Regions from separate parts of the Homo sapiens genome. Here regions 2, 3 and 4 are each linked to region 1. Evidence: fine-mapped expression QTL. A gene starts in region 1. Each other region holds a variant in brackets. All regions are shown on one strand. Distances are between the middles of the regions.

Region 1 (5,151 bases):
TGGAAGACTATGCATGTGGCAAAATTAAATGCACCAATAGTACTAAATAAAGGTAGGCAGGAAGGCACCTAATGTACTACAATAGCTTGTATAACATCAGCCTCATCCAGTGATCAAGGTGACCAAATAAATTATCTTTAACACACACACACACACACACACAGAGTATAGACTCCAAAGTTTCCATTGTAAGACAAATTCTCTGACACTAGTGCACACTTGATGCCCTGGATCCTCAAGACATCACCGGGTGCCGGGTGCAGGGGCTCACGCCTATAATCCCAGCACTTTGGGAGCCCAAGGTGGGCGGATCACGAGGTCAGGAGTTCAAGATCAGCCTGGCCAACATAGTGAAACCCCGTCTCTACTAAAAATACAAAAAAAAATTAGCTGGATATGGTGCCAGGTGCCTGTAATCCCAGTTACTTGGGAGGTTGAGGCAAGGAGAGTCACTTGAACCTGGGAGGTGGAGGTTGCAGTGAGCCGAGATCGTGCCACTGCACTCCAGCCTGGGTGACAGCACGAGACTCCATCTCAAAAAAAAAAAAAAAAAAAAAAGACATCACTGGTTTTGGTGAGAAGAGACAGCACACATCTGCCTGGCACTGGGCTGCTCTTCTTTGGAGACAGAGGGTACAATTTATATCCTGCAGTTTTACTCAACAGGGGATACCACCAGCAGTTTGGCCAGGGTAATGCTGTATGGGACTGTCCCCTACACCATGTAAATTGGGCATTTACAATTCTTAACCACATCCTCCCAAATGCCAGTGAGTCATTGAGAAAACCTGAAACACCCCCATGCATTTTCAAACGCCCCCTAGGGTTGCCACACTATCTCCGGTGAAGAACCCTCGCAGTATTCACCGATGAAGTTCTTCTCTATAAATACTCTGTTTTCCTACCTGGTAAAAATAATGACTGCCCGTACTTGTCCATCTGATGTGGTATAAAGAAATAATCTTTTTTTTTTTTCAAAGAAGCAACACGTCAAATAAGCCTTCTATGTTCTAGAGTTCACTGCTGTTTTTCAGCAGAAACAAATCACTGAGCTAAATTACAAAGAGACCATAGCAATCTCCAGGGCTTTAAAAGGCTGATGCAGTATTTTTTCTTGGAGAATTTAAAAATAAAATGCAGTTCAAACTCTAGAACCTACAGTGAGGTTTTTCTCATAAATTCTGGAACATCGCAAGTTCTAGAAATCAAGCCCTGAAGAATGAGAGTACCAAGGCAAAGAACCCTCAGAACAAAGATTATGCAAAAGGATCACTGGTGATTTTCTATTTTTACATGAATTATAATGGCAGTGAAATAAAACTTGCCCTTCTGAACTCCACCCCCATACTTGTGCTACGATTATTAAAGTACGTTGCATTGTGAATATACTTTAATTCCAAGACTTTAAGTGCTAACATTTAGACAGAATGTACTAAGTTATATTAATCAAATTTTTAGTATTAAACCTTTCTCTACCATAAAGTAAATCCTTTAAAAAAAAAAAAAAGTCCAATCCTTCTCAACCCAAGAAATATGCCCAAGGGTATCTACAGGAATGGCTGCAGTAACTGGCAAACGCTGGCAGGAATTTTCCAATGACTGAAGTCAACAAATCCTCAGGAAACATGCTCAGACAGATGGCACTTAAAAAAAAGCAAAAACAAAAACAACAAAAAAAAACCTACTGCATTTAGATTTATAGGAAGATTTTTCACTTACTTCAAATTTCTGTATAATCCTCGTTCCTCTAAGTTAAAGGGGGAAAGAAAATCACACTGCAATTCCTTATTTTTCTAATTTAAAAAACAAAACAAAACACGTTATACCCTCGAATCCAGCTTTTGATGTCTTCGAGTATTTTCTTGGAGTCTCTTTCCAATGAATACTACTTTCAAATTCTAAGCACAAAGTAAAATCCCAAAAGTTAGCCCAAATAGCGTTGTACAAAATCAAAGATCACGATGTCAGCAAGCAACTGCATCTATCAGAAGCGATGATGATTCAGAACAGGATAAATTTAGAATGGTGTTTTCCAAAAGGCTTTTTGGATGTCAAATTCAGGAAACAGGTAAAGGCTACATCCCAAAAGTTCCTCTCCAAAAAGAACGCCAAAATATTAATAAAAAGAGTCTTCTTTTTGAAGTTTTTCGTCCCCTAGTGTCCTCGAGGCTGAACTTCCCCAACCTGGCCTCGGTGGAGCCATCCATTACTGGGCAAATCCACATGAAACCTGAGGACACTTCAGCCTGGGGAGGACGCAGTCAGAGCAGTGAAGCAACTTCACATGGGACGGGCCTTTTATGGCCTGAACTCGAGAGCCTTGATACCAGCTCATCTACCAGAAATAGCCCTGGAAATTCAGAGGAGCCCATCAGCTGTTGCAGCAGGCCTGGCCAGCAGCTACTTCAAATGCAATTAGGTTGTCCACACTGTCTTTCAGCTTGTTGTATAGAGAAATTAAAAATACAACAGCAGTCTACTGAATAAGCTACAACAATACAGATTTGGATGAGCAAACATTTCTCTAACTTAGTTTTTTTAGGCTAAAAAAAGAGCACACAATCGTTGACAAAGCTCAGACACTGAACACCCCAAAAGTAAGTAACAGACATATATACAATGAATGCCCGAAAAGTAACTAACAGACATACACATCTATGAAACAGCATGATATAATGGCACATGTCTCTACAAGTTTACAAATTCTGTAACCTCTGTGGATTTCTTCCCACTTCCAATAACTGTAGAAAATGAATCATCAGAAGAAAGCATTGTGCTGGAAGTACTTTCTCGAAAATGACACAAATATTTTCTCTTAAAGCCAAAGTCAGTCCTCTGAACTGGCAAGATCTATCTTCCTATGGCTCTCAGGTAGCTCACCTCACTGAAAAACCAGATGAACCTAACCTAATGAAAAAAATATTAACTATGAAGCACAACCACTTCTTAAATGGCCATATGCATTTTTTTAAACATTAAAAGGCCACTGACATGTTGAATACACTCAAACAAATATCACAACCCTGTTTACAAAATACTTACAATTGTAGGTCTCTGTCCCTGTCGGTACCAAGAACAGAGAGTCTTAATTGTCTGCACCAACTTCAGTATAAACCACAAACCCCATAAGACTTGGGCTGGAGTACAGCAAAAGCTGTGTGCTGCGCGGGGCCTCCCAGTGGTATGCCTCTGGGTGTCAGGGTTCTCAGACCACCAGCTGCTTCGGCCAGCACAGGAGGCCTCTCAAAGCAGGATCTAAATTCCTGTTACTAATTAACCCTACAGAACAATGCCTCTCCCTAAGAGGACAGTCCTGAGGCCAGGTGAAAAGATGACAGGTATAATAATTAAACATTGGCTTCATGACTGTTTTGTGCTAGGGGTATTTGTCCCAGTCAACTGTTTTTTTTTTTTTTTACCCATCTCAAGATAACAAACAAACAAAATTTCATAGCATGGCTTTTGCATCCTAATCTCAGTCCTGACCCTGATCTTCTTTTCCCTTGGACCATATTGGCTTTTTCCTCATTTTAAAGTTTATTTGATCTTGTTTTACGTATTTTTATAAGCTGTGGTAAGCCCCTCCCTAGAGAAAAGTAGGGCAAAAATAAATAAAAACTTACATGAAACAGTTCACTATTTGGGTCTTCTCTGTAAAGAGAAGATAGGAGGAGAAAATGAATCACTGTTACCACAATAGTGCTATTTCCTTCCTAAAAAAAGATTCACTCCCACAAAATAAACATCAGTCTTTTGTGTGCCTCTTAAGTTTTTGCACACTGCTTCCCCATAGCAACCAAACTGTCCTAGATTAATACACTGGAGTCTAATAGGGTAAATCTCCTTCGTCACTTCTTTTATATATCCTTTCTGTCTTTGATTATTTAAATCCCAGTTAATTCTTCCTGTGCAATCCATTTACTTTCCTAATTTTTTTGCTATCTGCCTGGCTTAGAAGACTCATCATACTCACTTCTTTCCAATGATGATAATCATGAATTGGAAGAAAAATCAACACACAAAAGATGTCAATTGTCCCCAAACTGATCTACAGATTAACAAAATTCCTATCAAAATCTTGCAAGGTTTTTTTGTTTTGTTTTGTTTTGTTTTGTTTTTTTGAGACATGGTCTTGCTCTGTTGTCCAGGCTGGAGTAGAGGTGTGCAATCATGGCTCACTGCAGCCTCAACCTCCCCAGGAGGCAGTCCTCCTGCCTCAGCCTCCTGAATATCTGGGGCTACAGATGTGCACCACCACACTGGGCTAATTTTTTAATTTCTTAGTTTTTGTAGAGATGGAGTCTCATTAGGTTGGCCAGGCTTGTCTTGAACTCCTGGGCTCCAGCTGTCCTCCCACTTCGGCCTTCTTAAGTGCTAGGATTACAGGTGTGAGCCACCCTGCCTGGCCTCACAGTGATTTTTGGCAGATATTCTAAAATTTATAGTAAAGGTACAGGCCCTAGAATAGCTAAAAACCATCTTGAAAAAGAAGAAAAAAGTTAGTCTGGGCGTGGTGGCTCATGCCTGTAATCCCAGCACTTTGGTAGGCCGAGGCGGGTGGATCACCTGAGGTCAGGAGTTCGAGACCAGCCTAATGAACATGGTGAAACACTGTCTCTATCAAAAATACAGAAAAATTAGCCAGGCGTGGTGGTGCACACCTGTAATCCCAGTTACTAGGGAGGCTAAGGCAGGAGCATCGCTTGAACCCAATCCTGGGAGGCAGAGGTTGCAGTGAGCCAAGATCATGCCACTGCACTCCAGCCTGGGCCACAGAGTGAGACTCCGTCTCAAAAGAAGAAAAAAGTTAGAGCAATGAATCTATCCCATATTAAGGCCTACTGGATAACTACAGTAATCAAGACAACACAGCATTGGCAAAAAGAGAGACACATAACATAGATCAGTGGAACAGACTGGAGAACCCAGAGACAGGCCCACATGAATATGCCAAACTGATTTCTGTGCCATTCAACAAACAGTGCTAGAGCAATTAGACACCCCTAGGCAAAAGCAATGAGCTTCTACCCAATCCTCATTGTGGTACATCCATACCATGGAATACTACTCAACAATAAAAAGGAACAAATTATTAGTACGTTCCACGACCTGGATAAGAATCCAGGGAATTAAATTATGCTGAGTGACAGA
Region 2 (5,151 bases), 240 kb after region 1:
GGCTTAGCATTTGGGGTCCTAAGAATGTAAATGTTTCCCCAAGGAAAAAAATACATTTGGGGGATTAACTGGGTAGTTTCTTTTATTTCAAAAAATTTTAATTATAAAAATAAGAAAGAATCTGCTGAACCAAATGAAGTCGTGATCCCAAACAGGAAACAGAGAGACGAGACCACCATTCATCTGGGGTGGATCTTCTGGGATTCAGGGAGGTCACCTCTGGAGGTCTTCTTTCAGCTGGCTTGGCTTTACCACTCTATTTTAAGTCCAGGGACTGTCGCATTTGAACATATTTATATTTGGTCCAGGTCACATAATCCATAAAACTGGTTTTGTTCGGCATTTTTTTTCCATTAACTGCCCATTCTCGCTCCCTAGTAATGCCAGCTTTTCCATGTGAAGTGTATTTAGTAAATGGCTTTTCCTCATCACCCGTTTTCTCCCTAAATCTCCTATAATCTGTAATTTACCCTCACCCCTCTACTGAAACTGTGCTCTTGGAAATCACAAGAACTTCCTTTAGGCCAACCAAAGAAACTTCTCCAGTATTCTTTTTCGTTGCTCTTCCCAAGACCCTTGGCCCTGTTAGCGCCTTCTCTCCTTCAGACCCCCGAGTGCCTGGGCTTCCTGCACTCCCTGTGGCCATGTCTTCTCTCGAGGGGGGTCCATTCTCTCTGGGGTGTTCTCCAAGGCTTGGCTCTTGTCTCTAGACTTAATTTTCTCCATGTTAATCTTGGCTTATTCTCCTATCTTCAGCTGTCAACATTATTTATGCAATTCCCCAGTCCACATCTCCCACACTGTCTCTCTCTCAGTTCCCAGCCAGTATTTCCATCACCTTCTGAACAATTCCACTTGTTAAATTTGCTTCAACCTGGCACCTGAAGCTCCACAGACCACCTGCCAAGATCAATTTCCTGCCTCCACGTTGACTCCCTCTCCTGACGTCTGTCCCCATGGAGCTATCATTTCATCTCTGAATTACTCACACTGGCGAACTCAGAGTCATCTTTGCCCTCTTTTCCTGAACTTCAAGGTCCAAAGGAACAGGGGTAGTGTCCACCGCTCTCAACCACCATCTCCACAGGGCCTGGCCCAGGGCTTGTCGCATACTAAGAATGCAATACGTGTATGCTGGATGAACGAGTGAAGGTTCTCTTTCGTTACCCGCATTCCCTCAGGCATAAAGTTCATGAATCCATCAGCCAGTCTACACGTATATGTTTGGGGAGGCTGTAAAGGGAACTGACTGAGAATGGAGCTTCTTGAGTCAGACTGCCTGGGTTTGGATCTTGGTTCAGCAGCTTCCTACCTGCGTGACCTGGAGTATGTTACTTAACCTCTTGATACTTAAGTTCTTGCTCTGTAAAGTGAGAAAATAATAATACTTATCTGGGTGCGTTGGTTTGAGGATTAAATGAGATGATCTCTATAAAATGGATATATTAAGTGTTCAGTAAATCATGGTTGCTGCTGCTGCACATGGTGGCAGGGGAGAGGCATGGGCTGGCCTGGTGACCAGTGACATCTGGAAGCCCTTGAGATGCTATCAGGACATCTTGTCAGGGCTTCAGGACAAGCAATAACAACAGAAGGCCAAGGTTCAAGGTGTGTTTGGGGTGGAGGGTTGAGAGCTCTGATGGGGATGAAAAATAGCAGGAGAGAAGGCAGACTGAAACTGACCTCGTAGGGAAATGGTTCAAACTGTGCTCCCTAAGGCCATGGGGTTTTCTTCAACGGGTCTCTAAGGCTACTCGGGTGGGGCTGAGGTAGGGTGGGTGAAGGATTGGAAACCAAAGTGTGCAGGGTGGGCCGATTGGAGCGGGAGGATTGCCGGGCTGTGTTTAGAGGCAAGTATAGTGGCTCTCCTGTGATCTGCTCCGCATCTCGGGTTTCTGTGTGAGATCTCCTTTGAAGCAAGAGTTCTGCTGCTTTATCAAAGCATGAGCATTGTCGTGTGGGCCTTGAAGGCAAGCTGAGGCATATGAGCTTTCTACGGCCAGCAGCGGGGAAGCCGGGGGTGGGGGCAGATCCTGATGGAAGAGTAACAAGACTAAAGTGACGCTTTGTTAGAACCATTCTTCCGATAATTCATTTGCCTGGAATGAGGAGCAAACACATTTGCCAGGCAGGAAGGGCCACTACGAGATGGATCCCCTCTACTGTCCCTCTCCCTTGCTAAGCCTCCTCATGGCCGGCAGCGTGTCTCTGCTCTCCCAATGTCCTGCCTGAACCATGGCAGCAGGCCCCTAACCCTCTGCTGTGAAACTCTGGCCCCTCCATGGGGGTCAGCTCTCCAAAATCTTGTCATTCCATCCCACTTGCCAAAACGTCTAGCGGTTCATTTTTGGTTGTGGGATTATGAACCACACTCTTTTGCTTAGCATTCAAGGCCCCATTATGAAGACAATCTGCCTTCCTAGTCCCATCTGCTACCGGTCTCACATCTGTTCCCAGCTGGTGAAACCTTCTTACAGGACTCGGTACTCCCAACACAGTGCCTCTATTTTCTCCTGTACATTTCATGCCATCCTCGGGTCCTAGGATGCATCCTCTCCCCCACCACACACACACCTGTACTTAGTTTACTATCCTAGTGGACTTCACACACTCCGCAAGCCTTTTTTGACCATGTTTGGTTACATCTGTCTCTTTCCATAGGAATGCTCCAAGGAACCCTGCCACATAAATACTTATCCTGGCACTAATCAGTATTTTTTTTAGTTGTGTCACCTAACATAGCGCTGAGCTCACTGCACATCCACAAACCCAAATAATGTTAATGTAGCTGTACTGGGAACATTTCAGATGT[T/C]TTTCCTCCCAAACTGGAGCACCCACTTAGGCCATCCTTCAAGGCCAGAGGCCACTGGTGACCTGCCCAGTCCATTCCCTCAGCGCCTGGTCTCCCCAGACCAGCCTGTGACCAACCCATGAGGTCACAGGACAGGAACAATACAAGGGCTTTGTGTAGATGCTTGTGTTTTCAGAAGTGGCTCGAGTCCAGCCGGCATTCCTTCTTGACTGGGACTTTTTAAGAAATGTTTTCCCGACAAATGTCAGCAGGATTGAGATCCACCACACGGTTTATTAAAGGAACAAAAGCTTTGCCCTGACAGCCCCAGCAGCAATCTCGGTTTCCCCTGGGGACAGTCGGCCTGCGTGTTCCAGTCGGAAGCCAGAAGGAGATGGCCTGACATGGCTGTAAATGACTTCTCCTAACCACAGGCAAGAAGGACAAGAGGAATTTCGGGACCTGCGGTAGAGTCAAAGCGCTTCCTGTTCCTCCCTTAGCCCAGGCCCCACTTGCCAGCCCCAAACAGCACTGCCACCAAGGCGTGGCTCTTCTCACAGATGCCACATCATCTATAAAAAGCCTTCTCTGCCTTGCAGGTGCTAATGTTCTAGGGAGAGACAGACACTTTACAACCCGTTTCATGAGCTTCCTCTTGCAAGACGCAGGAACCACGGCACAGATGGCTTCGTTGCCATTGACAAATCATCCTCAGGGACCTTTCACAGCATTGCTAGGTATTAACATAAGACACACCAGGAATTACGTGCATCAAGTCCCAGTCCTCAGGGAGCTTCAAGTTTAAGCAGAGGAATGAGATCGGCCAATAATAATAATAATAATAATAATAATAATAATAAATAATAATAAATAAATAAGTTATGTTTTCAGCTAGCTCAGGCTAGAGGCCAGTGCAATTCAGGGAGACAGTGTTTGTTGTAGGAGCTGAAGACTGGCAGATGTATGTGGCTGGCTTATCAGCAAAAGGTCCAGGAGCCAGGATGGGAAGAACTTGAGCTTGATCTTAAGGAATGATCCATCCATGGATCAGCTAGGGAGGAGAGGAGTCCTGACTGAAATCAAGACACCATGCCCAGAATTAGGACCATGACCTAACTGGCTTCTAGACTTCATGGATTTCTTCTGTGGGTGTCTAGAGAACTTCCTTTGGCTTTAAGCAACCTTGCTGTGAGGTGCCAGGATTACAGAAGATGGGATCTGAGTGGTCCCATCTGATGATGCCACAGAAAGGATCCAGGCTGATTCTGGTCTCAACACATACCTTTGGTTTCTGGCCACAGTCAACCATGCTATGGGGTTACCCAGAAGTCAAAGGTCAGGTCCTGTGAATAAGCATCCAAACCTTGAGTTAAGATGGGACTACTGTCACCTCAGCTGTTCACAAGGTAGGACAGGAGACAAGATGGGAAAAGCCACCAGGCTAACCAATAGCAGCCTTCCCTCCTGATTCACCATCACAGCAGGAATCACCTAGATTTGGAAGCAGCCATTCCTTCCAAGAGCCCTGCTTCCTTCTACTAGGCCTGTTGATTATATTTTAAGACAGAAAGTACGAGTCTCTTTATGTCCATCAGCCTGGACCTGAAAGGTGACATCTATGTCTACACCCCCACTCCAAAGCCTCCTACACAGTGGCTGGCTCCACTTCATCTCAAAGGTCTGGAATGGATGATGTTCTGTGGTCCCTTTACAAAGCCTCTTGCATCCCAAATGTGTAAATTATTTTATTCTTGGTATTTCTCGCTTACCCATAGTCACCTGTCAAGTGTTCCACCCTGTCGAATGCAGGGAAAAACTCAATTCATATATAATGCCCAGTCCCAAACTTCACTCGCGGTTTCCAACATCTTCCTTGTAAAATCTTTGTCTGAAGCCATCACAAAATGGTAACATTGCTTGATTTCCACATTATCTTTCTGTCTTCAATTAATGAGTTGGCTGACCTCGAGCTAGGCAATTTGGCATTCACTCTTTCCAGTTGTGTAATGAGGGTGGTGCTCTTCTGGGGGCTTGGCAATCTCTTCCAGGACTCACATTGTGAGATTCTCTCCAGAGAAGAGACTTGTGTGATGCTTTCTAGACACTCTATTCTCTTCTGCTATAAGCAGGGCGATTGCTGAGCAAGGGGCAGGAAGTACTTAGAGCTTTGCCCTAGACTTTGGAAAGACCTGGGTGAGAAGTCAGGCTGCACATCTTCGGCCCGCTCTGACCTCAGAAGGCTGCTTCTCTCATGGAAGGCAGTGGGAGCACCCAATGAGCTAATGCATGTGAAATACTTAGCACAGTGCTTGCCTCAGAGCATGCACCTACAATATGTTAGTCCAAAGAAAACAAAAGGT
Region 3 (5,151 bases), 180 kb before region 1:
ATAGAGTTGTGCAATCATCACCACAATCCAGTTTTGAGACATTTCCATTACTCCAAAAAGATCATTCATGCCATTTGCAGTTAACCACCACTCCCATCTCCAACCTCAGCTACTGTTGATCTTGCTGTTTGCACAGATTTGCCTTTATGGGAAGTTTCATATAAAAAGAATCAAACAATATGTGGCCTTTTGCATCTGGCTTCTTTCACTTAATGCTTTTGAGGCGTATGCATGTTGTAGTGAGTATCAGGTGTACGTCATGTATACGCAGGAATATCTGTCCCTTTGCTGTCGGGGAGGACGCCATCGCATGGAGGTCCTGCATTTTGTTTTTCTGTTTCTCAGTTGACGGTCATGTGGATTGTTTACAGGTCTGGGCTATTATGAATAATGCCACTATGAACATCTGTGTCCAGGTTTCTGAGTGGACACACACGGCTAATTTTATAATAAAAAAAACAAAACCAAAGGACCAAAATGAATTCTGGAACTGTTTCTGGAATACGTTTCCTTTTACCAAAATGGGAATTCTAATAGCAGGGCAGGAAATGTAAAGTAGGAGAGAAAGAAGTGGGCTCACAGCAGCCTTTCCCCTCCTCGGATTTGGGAACAAAGAGGCAGGATTGTCCCACTCTAGAAGTGGCTCATATTCGCACAGTTCATCCAAAGCTACAGAACACGCTCAACATCCCATCTGCCCCGCGGCACCTCTGATATCGATCTCAATCCAAACACCCACCCCTCTCTTGAGTCTCTTAGTTCAAGGACAGCAAATTCAGGACATCGCACTTCCCTGCCCCTGATGCATTTAGTGAGAGCGGGGGTTTGAGTTTGGATGACTGTGGAGAAAAGCCCCAAGCACCAGTGTCAATTCCTGGGCTGAGACTTTAAGGTTTAGCAATTCAAGTGTTTCAGCTAGGTCCCTTCCCAGTGTACAAAGGTCAAAGTTTGCAGTTATGGAAGGAAAAGGATCAGAAAAAACCATGGAAAATAGGATCTGGTTCTATAAGCAGGAAAGAGATGCAGGAAACAATTTAGAGGAAAAGAGGCAAAAAGTATACTGGCTCTCCAAGCTGGGGTGTCTTATTCACCAAGAAGTGGCGAGAAGCAGACAGACAGCACGTTTTGTCGGGGGACAGTGGTTTTTGTTTTTTTGTGTTTTTTTTGAGACAGAGTCTCACTGTATTGCCCAGGCTGGAGTGTAGTGGTGCAATCTCGGCTCACTGCAACATCGGCCTCCCAGGCTCAAGCGATTCTCATGCCTCAGCCTCCCAAGTAGCTGGGATTACAGGTGTGCGCCACCACACCCAGCTAATTTTTGTATTTTTAGTAGAGACAGGGTTTTGCCATGTTGGTCAGGCTGGTCTCAAACTCCTGACCTCAAGTGATCCACCTGCCTTGGCCTCCCAAAGTGCTGGGATTACAGGCATGAGCCACCGCACCTGGTTGCCAATGTTTAATACAAGTGGATAGACACAGTTTTAAAGGACTTTGGGAAAATCTGGTGTTAATGAATATTAATGAGGACATCTGTCTTATTTATTCATTACAGCGGCTCTCCACTGGTAGTTCCTGTAGCAACTCAAGCTCCTTCCTGGGTATCTAAAGATTCAGGTGATATCTGGAACCTGCTGCAGAGGTTGCAATCCTGCCTCTTTCTGACCCTCAGGTTGCCCTAGTGACTCTAGGAACCTTTCTCCATACCTCTTGCGTGTTATCTATGGAACATGGACTTTGAACCTCTCTTCTTTTTCGTCTCCTTGCTTTGATTTAATCCATCATTTCTAGGTGCATGACAACACTCCCTAACTTAACCCCCCTGCTTTCCCATTTTAACTACCATCACAATAATCTTAATACTGGCAGGTATCTAGCACTTGGCGATTTTCAAAGAGCTTCCACTAGTTCCTTGCTCGGAATCTTGTGATGCAGGCAGGATAGCTAGGAGTGTCTCCTTTTAAAGGAAATCAAGGTAGAAAAGTTCAGTGATGACCCAATATCATAAAAATCATAAAATGGTGAGACCAGGAGCAGGTTATAGGTTTCTACCCTGGTGCGGTCCCAGGATGGGGCCTGTAAGTCCTGAAGTTTCAGGCAAATGTGCTGTGACTGGATGTGTTAAATTAGACTAACAGGGAGTGGGGAAGGGCTATGACAATTCAGAGTAGGTCTGTAGAATATGTTCACAAAACCATGGATTTAAGAACATGGGAGCTTGTGAGGAGTTTTCTAACTCATTTTTTAAGTTTTCTAGATGTCTTATCCATA[T/C]AATTTTTTTTTTTTTGAAATGGAGTCCCACTCTTGTCACCCAGGCTGTAGTGCAATGGCGCGATCTTGGCTCACTGCAACCTCCGCCTCCCAGTTTCAAATGATTCTCCTTCTTCAGCCTCTTGAGTAGCTGGGATTACAGGCATGTGCCACCATGCCTAATTTTTGTATTTTTAGTAGAGACTGGGTTTCAACATGTTGGCCAGGCTGCTGTTGAACTCCTGGTCTCAGGTGATCCGCCTGCCTCAGCCTCCCAGAGTGCCGGGATTACAGGTGTGGGCCACCTCGCCTGGCCCATACAATTTTTTAAAGGGCATTGAGATCCTAAAATTGAAATTGTAGATAGATATAGCTGTGGGATAAAGAACTTCTGCTGAATGATGATTTGCAAAAGTATGTCTTCATTATAGTACTGAGTACTAATTTTATGGGGCAAATAACTCTGTATTTAATCTTATGACCTTGTATAAAATCTTGCCCTAAACTAAATTCAAATGTATAGTCATTTATACTTAATTACAAAATTTGGTGCTATGTTAATATTTACCAAAAAAAAAAAAAATTCCAGAAAGGAACATGCTTGGAATTCAATGTGAACCAGTTAATTGTTGTGTTTATTCTGATACTTTTATTTGGGAGTCCTATATCACAAAATGACATGTGTACTGTTTACAACCGGTATTAGAAATTGAGATGTTTTTATTTTGACTATTTGAGAGTAAAATTGTAGATAATGTTCCAAACCATCATCAAAAATGCAGAGCAAACTTTTCTGTATATAAACTGTACATAAAAACAAGGCACTATACATTTTTGGGGAGATATTAAGGTAGAAAGGTTGATTCGCATAGATTCTCCAGAGTCCATGCCATTAAGTACAAATTCTTTGTTCATTTTAGCACCGGAAGCAGTACTCAGAACAAGTCATACCTAATGCTGCAGGAAACATTTCCAAACGTGTATGAAGATACATATTGGTGGCAGAGCTAATTCAACAGAAGCAACTCCATCTACCTTTTCATGTTATTTTGACACCAAAACAAATCTTGAAAGTGAATGAATACATATTGCTTTGTTAAATACATATTTGACTTATATGGTGTTTATATAAATATATATATATTTTAGAATCCACAAACTATCAAAATAACACTTTATAAAGAGAACTGCTTCAAAAAAAAAAAAAAAAGGCATTGCCTAGCTGGAACAAGAAGGCAGTGCTATCTATAGCAGCTGCGGCTTAAGTGCACATAACAGATACTTTTATTAATTCTGATAACCTCCTGAATGGTGGAAAGAAGTTTCCAAACAGTTCCCTTGAACATTTACAAAATACACAACTCCGGGACAAGCAGTATCTTTAACAATGTCAGGTTCTGAAAACTCTGATTGAAAAATACTTTGTGAAAAACACCAGTCCAAAAATATATATCCATTTCCCTGGTGCAGTGGTGTTGTTGGACGTGACCGTGAGGCTCCTCTGGCGTCTCCCCACTCAGAACAGGCCTTTTGCTTTCTTCAGGTTCACCTGCTTCCAGGCGGGCAGGGCGTTGTATTCATCCCTCGTCATGTCTAGTGCAAACTGGAAACATTGGGAGAAGCGCCCCGCGGCTCAGTGAAAGGAGCCGGGCGTGCGTGTGTTGTTTTACTCCCATCCCCACCCCACCGGAAGAACCGCTTACCTCGAAGTCTTCGTCGGTGAGATAGATCTCAAGCTTCAGAGGATCGACCCCCTCCGGGAGTGGCCTGGCCAGGAGGTCGGCCAGCGGGTAAATGGTTTTACAGAGCTTGGCTAAGACGTCTTCCACGAGGGTGATCTGATTGGAAACTTCCGTGTCCTAGAGAAGAGGAGGGGGCAGAGAGGAGAGCTCGTGTCCTACATTTGAACTTGTTTTATTAAGTGCTTACAGACACACAGCCCTGTGCCACCTGCATACTGCCTGAGGATGCATAGTTCCATATCACTGAGGAGGAAATGGCTCTGAAAGAAAAGGGATCGCCCAAAGCCCTGCAGTTGTCTGGACTTTTAATTTTTAAAATTTTTAAATTTTAAATTAAAAAATGGTATTTTTTGAGACAAGGTCTCACTCTGCTACTCAGGCTGGAGTGCAGTGGTGCAATCATAGCTCACTGCAGCCTCCAGCTCCTGGGCTCAAGTGATCCTCCTGCCTCAGCCTCCTGAGTAACTGGGACTATGAGTATGCATCACCAGGCCTGGCTAATTTATTTTTCCTTTTCCATTTTTTTTTTTTTTTTTGTAGAGACTGGGTCTTGCTATACTGCTTAGGCTGGTCTCAAACTTCTGGCCTCAAGCGATCCTCCTGCTGGGATTACAGGTGTGAACCACCACACTTGACCCCAAATTTTGTTATTTTTTAGAGACAGTGTCTCACTGTAACCCAGGCTGGAGGGCAGTGGCTCAATCATAGCTCTCTGCAGCCTTAAACTCCTGGACTCAAGCAGTCCTCCCACCTCAAGCCTCCTGAGTAGCTGGCACTATTGGCATGTGCCACCACGCGCACCTAATAATTTAAAAAATTTTTTTGTAGAGATGATGGAGTCTTGTTTCTCTGACTTATAGATCTTTTCTCACCTTGTCACAGAGTTTTAAACAAACCCTGTCTCAGAACTGTCTCTGGAAAAATGTTTAGGGACTGTCCCATGAGTGAATTATGGACTAAGATTAGTAGATTTGAAGTCTAAACACCAGAAGCCTCCAAATAATGGAATTTGTTTAAAAATAAATATTAAAAAATAACCTGAAAAGAAATCACACCCCCCTTCCCTCCCCTGGCCCCATTTCTTAATCTGCAATAGAAAAAGAAGGTCAGAAAATGCACCTAGAATATTCTGGAGCAGAATCAATTTTTTTGTTTTTAAAAC
Region 4 (5,151 bases), 170 kb after region 1:
ACATTCATGAGGCATCTTCCCCTAAAACCTCCCACTAGGCCCCACCTCCAAGCTGGGGATTACATTCTTTTTTTTTCTTTTTTTGAGATAGGTCTCATTCTGTCATCCATGCTGGAGTGCAATGGTGCGATCAAAGCTCACTGTAGCCTGGAAACTCTAGGCTCAAGCAATCCTCCCACCTTAGCCTCTTGAGTTACTGGGACTATAGGCATGCATCACCACACCTGGATAATTTTTTTTTTTTTTGTAGATATGGGGTTTTGCCATGTTGTCCAAGCTGGTCTCAAACTCCTGGGCTCAGGGGATCCTTCCACTCCTGCCTCCCAAAGTGCTAGGATTACAGGCATGAGCCACCACATGTGGCCAGGGATTACATTTCAACATGAGATTTGGAGGCAACAAACATCCAAACTATATCAAGTAAGAAAGGCAAGAAGGGCTAGGAGTCTAGCTCATGAAAAAGTAGGGTAATGGGTAGTAGGGACTGGCTCACTTGGAGTTTTGTGAGCCATAGTAGTTTGGATTTTATCCTCACTTCAGTGGGAGGCATTGGAGGATTTAAGCAGACGAGTGATATGATCTGATTTACATTTTCTGGAAGATCACTCTGGCCACTGTGGGGGGAGGATTTCAGTGAGATGAGTGTAATCAGAGCAGCTGGAAGGCTGCTGAGATACCCCAGGTGAAAGATGACAGCGGCTACAATGGTGAGATCCTGGGAAATGGTGAGAGGTGATGGGTGTGGGGTGTATTTTGGAGGTGGAGCCCATAGGACTTGCTGATGTGTGGGAATGAAGTAAAACAGAATCAAGAATGACTCCTTGGTGTTTGTCCTGAGCAACTGGGCATATGGGGGTACCATTTAGTTCAGAGGGGGAAGATTCTGGAAGGACCAAGTTTGGGGAAGAAAGGGGAGAAAAAGATCAAGTGTTCTGTCTGGATCCTGTTCAGTTTAAGACTCCAATTCAACACTCAAGTAGAAACTTCAAATATGTAGCTGAAAAGGTTATTGTTACAGATGAAAATTTGAGAAAGAATGATTTAGAATTAGATGGTGACATGGTTTGGTTGTGTCCCTACCCAAATCTCAACTTGAATTGTAGTGTATCTCTAAATTCTCACGTGTTTTAGTAGGGACCCAGGAGGAGCAAATTAAATTGTGGAGGCCGGTCTTTCCCATGCTATTCTCACGATAGTGAATAAGTCTCATGAGGTCTGAAGGGTTTATCAGGGCTTTCTGCTTTTGCTTCCTCATTTTCTCTTGCCACTGCCATGCAAGAAGTGCCTTTTGCCTCCCACCATGATTCTGAGGCCTCCCCAGCCAAGTGGAACTGTAAGTCCAATTAAACCTCTTTTTCTTCCCAGTCTCAGTTATGTCTTTATCAGCAGGGTGAAAACAGATTAATACAGATGGCTACACATAACAAACAATCCTAAATATCAGTGATTTACATAAGCCCAGGTTTTTCTTCTTTTCCACTTAATGAAAATCTGGAGCTAGGCAAGTAGGGGCTGATATGGGGTGGGGGGGGGGGTCCAGTATTGGCAAGGAAGCAGGCACTTGTCTTTTAGCTTTATCATCCTCAGCATGTGTCTGCCACCCTTAAGGTTACCCATGGTCCAGTAAGTAGGGACTATGGAGCTTTTATCATTAATTCCACATCCCAGGTAGTAGGAAGACTGTGGCAAGGATCAAAGCTGCAGCTGCAGGTCCCTTTGAAGAGCCTTCTTTTTTTTTCTTTTTTTTTTTTGAAGACAGGGTTTTCCTCTGTTGCCCAGGCTGGAGTGCAGTGTTGTGAACACAGCTCACTGCAGCCTTGACCTCATGGGCTCAAGTGATCCTGCTGCCTCAGCCCCCTAAGTAGCCAAGACTACAGGTGCACACCACCACACCTGGCTAATTCTTGTATTTTTTGTAGAGATGAGGTTTTGCTATGTTGCCCAGGCTGGTCTCGAACTCCTGAGCTCAAGAGATTTGCCTGCCTTGGCCTCTCAAAGTGCAGGGCTTACAGGTGTGAGTGAGGAGCCTTCTTTACATGCTGTCTGACATGTCATTGTTCAGAACTTAATTACACGGTTGCAAGGGAATGTGGTAAGTGTAGCCTTTTCATAGGGTGCCTTGCAGCCCTTAATAACATCTGTCATTAGATTTCTAAATAATGGGTACAGTCTTGGCTATAAGAGTCATCAGTGCAAACAGTGTTTACAGCCATGGCATTGGACGATGA[C/T]GTGATCGGCAGAGGAAGGGAAACCAATCACAGAGGTGCTCATCCACAGCTGTAACGTGCCTCTGGCTCACAGAAACATGGAGCACCAGAGCTTGGCTTGGCTTGTATTGGTCATTCTTTGTCTTATTCCTGGGCCATGCATTTTTATAGCACGTGTTTGTCCTTTTCCTTTTGACCTACTTTACCCTTATACAACCTAGTTGAGTTTTATGCACTCTTTCAAGAAGCCCTTCTAGAACACGACTGTGTATAAATAAATAACAAACAAAGCTTTGATCAGTCTTCCTCTGTCAGAATGGGGAAAGAAGGCGAAAGAAGTAGAAAAAGAGGAAGTAGAGGAAGGGAAAGGGGCAGGAAATGAGTGGAAAGCAAACTGAGTGATTGAGGAGATTTTTGTTGGGGGTCGGGGAGATGCCTCAGAGCTTGTGTATTTACATGAGTCATCTGGACACGCTGAAACCCAGTTTCAACTTGAAGGGTTCCTCTCCAACCAACTGCTTCCTGGGGTCTGTCTGGAGAGTTACCAGAAGGTAATCTTCAACTAGAAGTGATTATTAGGTGGGCATAGGCAGCTGTTGTTGGCAAAGGAAATGCATTTCTTTTTGCTTACCTGTGACCAGTGGTTTGAGTCTCATGGAAGAAGCTCTCAATGATAGAAACTGAAGTCAGTGCCACATATGTAATTATATAAAGAACTTTGTGATTGCAGCTCAGGAAATGGTCTGGGTTTCAGACGTCCTCTGTCCTCACTGATGATGGCTGAAACTGAGGGTTTCAAAGTCTCTGGTTGGTGCCAGAGGGTACAGTTGGGTACAGAAAAGTGAGGAAATACTCTGGAGTCAAATAAAAATGCAAGAAGCAGAGAGCTTTTGAGGATATACAATGTGACGCTTAATGTTTGTCTTCCTTAAATGTCCTCAGTGCCACCATGACTAAGTTCTGGAAACAGAGAATCCTGTTTTGATTCTGTGACTCAGAGGGCATAATATGTTGGCTCTTTGCCCTGGGGCCCAGGGTATCCAGTGAAGCAAAAACAACTAGGCTACAGCTGCACTTCCCTGTGCTGCATGCTGCAGGGGCTGGAACCAGAAAGGCCACAGGGAATCTGAGAAAATTCACTTCTCTTAAGCTTCTCACTATTTCTCCAAAGCAAAGACAGGAGGGCTGCTGCCAGGACTGTGAGAGTTTGTACAGTATTGTGGTGCAATTGCAAAAGGCGTGCTTTCTCCTGGCAGGTGCAGCCCCCACACAGGGCTCAGCATGTGGTTAGTGGAGAACAGGCTGGATTTAGGTCCCCATCCTCCCTCTCAGCAGAGCATCCCTGCAGAGAGAAAAACCCACACACCCACCCACCTGTGGTAGCGCTGGCTGCTACCTACTTCACACATCCTGCCTGATAAGGTTTGGCTGCGTCCTCACCCAAATCTCACCTTGAATTGTAACTTCCATAATTCCCAAGTGTTGTGGGAGGGACCCAGTGGGAGATAATTGAATATGGGGGCAGTTTCCCCCATACTGTTCTTGTGGTAGTGAGTAAGTCTCTTGAGATCTGATTTTTATAAGAGGTTTCCCCTTTTGCTTGGGTCTCATTTTCTCCCTTGTCTGCCACCATGTAAGATGTGCCTTTCACCTTCTGCCATGATTGTGAGGCCTCCCCAGCCATGTGGGACTGTGAGTCAATTAAACCTCTTTTTCTTTATAAATTACCCACTCTCAGATATGTCTTTATCAACAGCGTGAAAACGGACTAATACACTGCCTGTCACCACTGGGGCTGTCCCAATGCTTCATGCCCTTGGAGTGGTGGCCTCTGAAGCAGAGTTTAGTGTGTAGCATGTGTCTGAGGCGTGTGCTTGAGATCAACTCCCGTGGCAGGGAGACAGAAGGCAGGAGAGTGCGAGGGAGAAGTCAAACTGTGATGAAATCTGATGATGGCCTTGGGCAGCCCTGTGGGGAGCCCTGGAGCTAGAATGTTCTCCAGTGTTGGACCAAGCTGGTCAGGCCTGTATCCCTCTGTGGTTTAGGGTAAAGCCGCTCTTCAGCTAAGATGAGTCCTGAGTTGGGGCAGCTGACAGCTGACACCCAGCCACCAGCATGCCCAGTGGTGGGGGCAACAAGTCTGTCCATGAAGGGAGATATAGAAGGCATGTCACAGTGTCTGCCACACCACCCCAAGGCTGCCCTTTAATAACCTAGTTTTCTGCTTCAAGGCTTCCCTTGATATTAAATTTCATCAGAGTTCTACAGCATGCCAAGATTTGAGGGGCAGGATAAAAAAATCACCCTACTGTCAATGCCATAGGCATTGCCTAACCATGATAATCAGAGAAAGCCGCTTTTACCCTAGTGTCTCTCAATTTTGACCCCAAATTAAGCATAATGCCAAAAGAAACATTTTGGGACTCTCTGAAAGGTCTAGGAAGGGAAGAAGCTTGCTGGGTGCATTCTGCAGGGACATCAGTTTACTGTCCACACTTTTTGTGGTCCATATCTTCTCCGAGGCCCTCATGCTGAGAAAATCTCACAGGAATCCCATATTCAGCCTCAGGGGAGGAAGGTCCGTGCGAAACACAAGAAGGAAGATGATTGGGGGCCGTGGAAGAGAGAGGCAATGTCACCTTATCCCAGGAGACCTCCAGCAGGTCCCTGGAAACAGGGGCAGGGGACAGGGGTGAGGCAGGGTGGGGAGCCCTAGATCCCAGGCCAGACCACTCGGTCAACCCCTGGCCTTGCTGCCCATGAGGTCTGCAGCTGTGGGAAAGTTCCTTAATTGTTCCATGCCTCAGTTTCCCCATCTGAGAAATTAGGATTGATAGTACCAACCTCAGAGGGCTCCTGCCAGGATGAACTCACACGAATCCCTTGAAGAGGGCCTGACCCGCACTGCACTCAGGAGCTGTGGCTACAAGAATGGGAGCAAGAA

Direction of the effects. Alleles are on the strand shown, and positions count from the first base shown. SD is a standard deviation of normalised expression in the study named. Not every link is listed here.
With allele T in place of C in region 2, the expression in aorta of the gene that starts at base 2,271 in region 1 is higher (small effect, 0.30 SD a copy in GTEx).

What was found. PIP is the estimated chance that this variant, and not a neighbour inherited with it, causes the effect.
Region 2: its variant is the best candidate, but not a certain one, in a credible set for the expression of SVIL in aorta (GTEx, PIP 0.72).
Region 3: its variant is the best candidate, but not a certain one, in a credible set for the expression of SVIL in whole blood (TOPMed, PIP 0.58).
Region 4: its variant is the best candidate, but not a certain one, in a credible set for the expression of SVIL in whole blood (INTERVAL, PIP 0.88).

The regions. Positions count from the first base shown.
Region 1 is chr10:29,632,701-29,637,851 of GRCh38, forward strand. It overlaps SVIL (supervillin), which reads right to left and starts at 2,271. Exons shown (of 38, transcript NM_021738.3): 1 at 1,720-2,271. RefSeq lists a silencer at 2,080-2,374.
Region 2 is chr10:29,875,268-29,880,418 of GRCh38, forward strand. No RefSeq gene overlaps it. Among named protein-coding and RNA genes, the nearest start is that of JCAD, 180 kb to the right of the region's middle. The variant T/C (reference allele first, on the strand shown) is at 2,813.
Region 3 is chr10:29,454,484-29,459,634 of GRCh38, forward strand. SVIL (supervillin) reads right to left here. Exons shown (of 38, transcript NM_021738.3): 37 at 3,951-4,106; 38 at 2,855-3,850. The coding sequence ends at 3,764. The region is part of intron 2 of SVIL-AS1 (SVIL antisense RNA 1); the gene reads left to right. Among named protein-coding and RNA genes, the nearest start is that of SVIL-AS1, 48 kb to the left of the region's middle. The variant T/C (reference allele first, on the strand shown) is at 2,269.
Region 4 is chr10:29,801,143-29,806,293 of GRCh38, forward strand. No RefSeq gene overlaps it. Among named protein-coding and RNA genes, the nearest start is that of SVIL, 170 kb to the left of the region's middle. The variant C/T (reference allele first, on the strand shown) is at 2,229.